Homo sapiens: one gene and its partner. The protein of the gene in region 1 purifies or fractionates together with the protein of each later gene. This does not show direct contact. Each region holds a gene or a part of one and is shown on either strand. Other genes may lie near its edges.

Evidence for each region.
Region 2: the proteins of MT1F (region 1) and RPRD1A purify together in Homo sapiens (affinity purification with mass spectrometry; one large-scale study listed by BioGRID and IntAct). This does not show direct contact.

What each region holds. Positions count from the first base shown.
Region 1 is NC_000016.10:56,656,732-56,659,803, forward strand, and holds MT1F (metallothionein-1F), read left to right. Parts: upstream 1-1,227; 5' UTR 1,228-1,327; coding exon 1,328-1,355; intron 1,356-1,943; coding exon 1,944-2,009; coding exon of another isoform or gene 2,010-2,050; exon of another isoform or gene 2,051-2,051; intron 2,052-2,341; coding exon 2,342-2,433; 3' UTR 2,434-2,572; downstream 2,573-3,072. UniProt on the Homo sapiens protein: Metallothioneins have a high content of cysteine residues that bind various heavy metals; these proteins are transcriptionally regulated by both heavy metals and glucocorticoids.
Region 2 is NC_000018.10:35,989,046-35,992,186, reverse strand, and holds the end of RPRD1A (regulation of nuclear pre-mRNA domain-containing protein 1A), read left to right. Parts: 3' UTR 1-2,363; downstream 2,364-3,141. UniProt on the Homo sapiens protein: Interacts with phosphorylated C-terminal heptapeptide repeat domain (CTD) of the largest RNA polymerase II subunit POLR2A, and participates in dephosphorylation of the CTD by RPAP2.

The DNA of each region.
Region 1 (3,072 bases):
ACAGGCGTGAGCCACGGTGCCCGGCCTGACTTGTTATTATTTAAAAGATTTCAAGCCATAGGGAAGTCCAGCAATAGAGAAGACATAGCTGGGCCTTATTTCAGAGAATTTCTCCTGAGAGGCTGGCTGGATTCAAATCAGTGCACAGCTTTTTAGCTCTGTGACGATGAGCACGTTGCTTGAACTTTCTTTGTTGTAGGTGTCCATTTATTAATATGGGTTCATGCCTAGTATTTCCCTTTACAATTGTTGTAAAGGTTCAAACAATGAAAATGATTAAAAGGAGACTGGCACAGACTCAACCTTAAGCAATTGCTAGTAATATTGAAGGGAATTAACCACTTGTCTTTCTTACTTCTTATGTTAAGTTTTTCTTTTTCTTTTTCTTTTCTTTCTTTTCTTTTCTTTTTTTTTTTTTTTTTTTTTTTTTTTTTTTTTTGAGAGGGAGTTTCACTCTTGTTGCCCAGGATGGAGTGCAAAAATGGTGCGATCTCGGCTCACCGCAAACTCCGCCTTCAGTGATCTCGCTTCTGGGGGCATCCCATATTTTCCAAACTGCCATCCTATAGTGGGGTGCCCGTCGAGGCTGTGGGGAGACCCCGGAGAGATTTATGCAAAGGAGGACCCAGACAAATGTGCCCATTCAGCCTCTCAAGAGTGAAGAATGGAAGAGAGGGGGGCAGAGCCCTGTGTCTTCCGTGTTGCTGTGCGCAGGAGAAACATGGCCAAAGGACTGAGGTGGGGTGACAGGGACAGGCAATGCTAGAGATCCGAAGGTCACATCCTCGGCCTGTCCTTTGCACACTACTCCCTTGCTAGGCTCCCTGCTCCCGCCAATCTAGACAGTGGCGCAAGAGACTGGGGTTGCACTGGGACTCCAGGAAAGGCTTAGCTGTTGACGAAGGACCGGGGCGGGGCCGGGGGGCGGGGCGAAGGCCAGGATCTCCAGGTACCCGGAACCCCAAGGGGCGGGTGTAGCAGGCAATCTTGGCGAAACTGGGAAGGGCGGGCAGGAGGGCAGGGAAGCCGCTCACCCAGGCACAAAGCGCCTCCCGCTTGAGCGGACTCCAAAGGGACGGTCCGCGGTGTGCAGCGAGCTGCGCTCAGGGGACCTTGCGCCCGGCCCTTCTGCTGCACACAGCCCACCCAGGACCTCCCGCAGCGCTGACAGGCGGGGCGGGTGCAAAGACGGGGCGGGGTCTCTGCGCCCGGCCCCCTCCCCTGACTATCAAAGCAGCGGCCGGCTGTTGGGGTCCACCACGCCTTCCACCTGCCCCACTGCTTCTTCGCTTCTCTCTTGGAAAGTCCAGTCTCTCCTCGGCTTGCAATGGACCCCAACTGCTCCTGCGCCGCTGGTAAGGAACGCCGGGTTCCGTGCCTGGGGATGCTCGATTCCCAGACACCATAGAGAGTGTTCCTGGGTTTGAGAAGGTCGTATTTTGAGATCTCAACTGTAGGGGACTCCTTGACTTAGTCCAGTGCTTTCCTCTTGGCCAAGATCCTGAGAGCATTTCCTTCCTCTCTGTGCCTCTGTGTCAGCGTTGAGGGTACTGAGGCTCAAGGCTGTCCTGCTCCACGTCATGCGGTTTGTCCCAGGGCTGTTGGCTGAGCCCCAGTGCTCTGACCAGGCTTTGAGCAGCAGGATTAGATAGGAGGCAGGGGACATTGCCTCTTCGGGGTTCAGGACAGAAAGTCGAAGTCGCCGTCTTCCCAGGCTGTGCCTGGAGCCTGGGACTTTCCTTTGGAGTGCAAACAGGAGGCTGCTTGGCCTTCCCAGCATGAAGGGAGAGGACATGGGGCTTCTCTTCCTCTGCTCTGAGTGGGAAAGGAGCTCTGAGGGCTGGCCCCGCACAGAGGAGGGGGCAATGGAGACTCATTAACTCACTGCTGTACCTCCTGCAGGTCACTCGCCGCTCACTGGCTTTTTTTTCTCTTTCTCGCAGGTGTCTCCTGCACCTGCGCTGGTTCCTGCAAGTGCAAAGAGTGCAAATGCACCTCCTGCAAGAAGAGTGAGTGTGAGGCCATCTCCATGGTCTGGGGCTGTGGCTAAGGTTGGGATGGAACCCAAGGCTGGCCCTGAGTGCATGCTTCTGGGGAACTGGCCTTCCTTTGTCCCCGTAGGTTGTCACTGCCTTTCTAGTCTTCTGCCCTGTGCAGGGCGCCTGGGCAGCTTTCTCATAGGAAGACCCACCCCAGATATTTCCCAGTTGTCTCCTGACAAAGCCATACCCTCCTGAACTGAGGGTCCTTTGTGGCTGGAGGCTCTGTTGGGGGCCTCTGTTGGGGAGGGAGGTCCCTGGGCAAGTTGGCTGTGACCTCTCATGCTCCTCTTCTTCCCCAGGCTGCTGCTCCTGCTGCCCCGTGGGCTGTAGCAAGTGTGCCCAGGGCTGTGTTTGCAAAGGGGCGTCAGAGAAGTGCAGCTGCTGCGACTGATGCCAGGACAACCTTTCTCCCAGATGTAAACAGAGAGACATGTACAAACCTGGATTTTTTTTTTATACCACCTTGACCCATTTGCTACATTCCTTTTCCTGTGAAATATGTGAGTGATAATTAAACACTTTAGACCTGATTCTGACTTCAGTTTCCCTTATGTGCTTCAGAAATCAGAGACTGGGGTGGGGGATCGAACTAGGGTTGCAGACTCCTGGGCTCTAAATGGAAATCTGAGTCCCTAACAATCAGAGTGCATTAAGGCAAGCCAGGCTGCCTCACTGTGCTTCCTCTTCTGTAGAATGGAATAACACTTCATCAGGTCATTGGTGGGGATCCAGAATACAGGATCACCTTCATTCTCAAATGTGGCACAGAAACTTCTCAATGCCTCCTGTTCCTTCTCTGATTTCTCTGCCCAACTTCAATTCCTCTTTGGATTTCAGGTTAGAAAGTGACTACACGGAATGGAATCAAACCCCTTAGTTATTTGAATTCTACACCGGGCTTCTCAAACTCCAGGGTGAAGGAGGGGTTTTTAATTCCTATCCATTCCACATCTAAACCTTGGTAAATGAAATAATACTAATGATGGAAGTCATGAAATTAAATTCAATATACAAAATCTGGCCGAGCAGG
Region 2 (3,141 bases), on another chromosome or scaffold:
GAGACATTTTCAATGTTTCCTTAAGGTTTTTGAATGACTGTATATTTGGCAGTTAAGCAGTGCCACACTACAGGGTAGATATGGTAAATTTTATATTTGTATATTTACAGTTACAAAACAAATGTACTTTTACCTTTTATTTCTGACCCTGTGTGTTAGAGCAGTTGCATGCTCTCCTGCTGTTAAAAACACATTGTTAAGCTGTGGATTTGTACTCAATAATGACTTAGGATAAACATTTATTTTCATTCATTGCTTTACATACTAGACATTTTTCTTCTCTTTGTAAGTAGATTCAAATTAGATAGTCAATAAAACATCTTGAAAATCCCACAAGCCAATTATGTCTCTCTAGTCTGAATGGCTTCATTGTTTCTTTCTCAGTATTAGAAATTATAGTTACAATGAATTGCATATGAAGAAGGCAGACATTTATTTTTAATAGCCAAGTAGTTCTGCAAATAGTTCTTTTAACAATTTGACCTCTCTCCAAAACAGAGACACATATAAGTAGTGCTCATCCATGCACTACTAATAATACATGGCTTATTCCAAAGTTTTTAGTCAACTTTTGGGACTTGGGGTGCATTTTCTCACAGAAAGAATAGTAGTTAGGTTCCCTAACACTACCGCTGATAGCTCACCTGGGAACTGAATCCACCTAACCATGAATGTCCTTCACTTGTAACGTGGTTCACAGGTTACTAATCATAGATCCTGACCAGCATTTGTAACACTGCTCTAACTAGGACACAGCATGCAGCAGCCACACTCACACCCTGGGATGTCTGTGTACCTCTGTCCCTAGGTGTAGGAAATGGAAGAAAAAGATTCAGCCAAGTGGGGAGGTGACAGATGCACAATTATGAAACCTGGTTGTACATGTTATGAAAGTATACTAAGTAAGTTAGTTTTTATTATTAATGTGAAAGCAAAAACTTGTATGTTAACTTATTTTCAATATCTTGACCTTATTTATGATCTGCTAAAGTGGTGATTTATCCATTCAAAATATATATTTTTTTCCATTTAAAACTAATTTATAAACTATGTACTCCTGGGAAGATTTGAAATCTTTTAGAAGTTTGTTGAAATATTTTCACCATTTCAGACAGACTTCTGACTTAGATACTGATTTTAATGCCAGTATCTGCTCTAAATATTTATGATAAAAATGCATTATTTTTTTAAAGAGCTTGATGAGATTTGTGATAAGTGATAGTACTCAAAAACCTGAATCCCACCCCTCGACCAATCCTCCACAAACTTCAGTTGTTGGTTAACGTATTAACTGAACACAGACAATACAGTCTGATTTAGAAGTCATCTTTTCAGCCGTGTGATAATTAACATGGTAAGCCTTAGCAGCAAACATTCTTCCTAAAAGGAAGACTTCATTTTCTCAAGAAATGGGATTAGTTGGGGGTATTATAATACCAAATTGTAAATCATGAGCGTTTTCTCCACTGTGCACCTGAGGCAGATCATGCATCTTTGAGTGCAGTTTGGTCTGACCCCTCAAGAGAAAAGCATGGTGCCGTAGGGCTGCTATGGTTTGAATGGATGCCATCACTCTTTTCTCCACATACAGTGCAGAGAGCTGTCTGGAGTCACAATCTGAACAGATTCTCGGGCGCTCCTTCTCTCCTTCCATCACTACAGTAAGTAAAAGGACCATAGAGGGGAACCAGGAATCTGAGAATCAGCTGTGCTCAATAGCCAACCTCCCTGTCCAGATGCAGCTATTTTGGTATCTCCTATCACATGCACTCTGAATCAGGGTTTTTCTATAAGAAATCTTTCAGAATCAGCAAAAGTGGGGATGACCCAGGCATCTTGATTTGCAAAATCACAAAACTAAGTTGTCAGTTATCACTGTAGATGAGCAACTCATCTTTTTAAAGTATAGTTACTGAACTGATTCTGAGAAATCTTTAGAGAGAAAAAACTCAACAGTACAAATTAACTAATTGGGAAAGTTAGAATGTCCTTTCTGAATTTTTCATTAAAAAAATTACATTATCTGAAATAACATAAAGCTACTAAACTGCTTTGTATTCTATTAAGAAATAGCTCCTAAGGATGTAGTCTTGTTTCATAGTTGTTGCACTATATCAAAACTTAAAATGTAAGCCCAGTTCTTCTCTGTATAGAAAGGAAACATTGTGTTACTTAATGAATTATTTATACAGAGCATTTGTTGCCAACTGTTGTTCCAGCCATCCACACAGGAGTCTGTTCTGAGGTGGCAATAGCACATGGGAAGATGAACTTTCCCTGTTTGTTTACCCGTTCTTCTTTGGCTGTATCTGATGACAGTATAAGATGTTCTTAATAAAGTTTTATGTTCTTTTTGAAATGTGTAGGTTGTTTTGTGAATCTGATTCATTGGATATGGGGTGGGAAGGGGAAAGATTAATGGACTGGGAGGGAAGCAAAGTACTGGAAATAATTCTGATGTTATGGTAGAGAGACTGCTGAAGGAGGAGATTTACTTGGCCAGTAGTTCCCAAACTTGAGCGAGCATCAGAATTACCTAGAGCCAGTTTGTCCAACCTGTGAGCTGCACGTGACCCAGGACGGCTTTGAGTGTGGTGCAACACAAATTTGTAAACTAAAACATTATGAGATTTTTTTTTTAGCTCATTAGCTATCATTAGTGTATTTTATGTGCAGCCCAAGACAATTCTTCTTCAGGGTGGCCCAGGGAAGTCAGAAGATTGGACATCCCTGACCTAGAGGATTTATAAACTACAGATAGTTGGGCCCCACTCCCAGAGCTTCTGATTCAGTAGGTCTGGGGTAAGGCCTGATGGTTTACAGTTCAAACAACTTGATGCTGATGCCACTGGGGTTAGGGACCACATTCTGACAACCACTGCTCTAAACAAATTCCAGGTAATAAGATAATAAAGTATGGTTTTTATAATTATATAGCAAGTTCCTTATGGGAAAAGAACAAGATCACATATTCTTTTGTGGTCCACTGCTTAGTAGTGCTTTATTAAGTGCTTTTGAGTGAACAGATTCAATTGGTACTGTCAACCTCCTGGAGCCCATGCCCTTTTACCACTCCTTGAATTTAAAGCAAAACTGAAGATACTAGAAATCTGTGAGAATCTCCAGGGCAGTGTGTGCCAT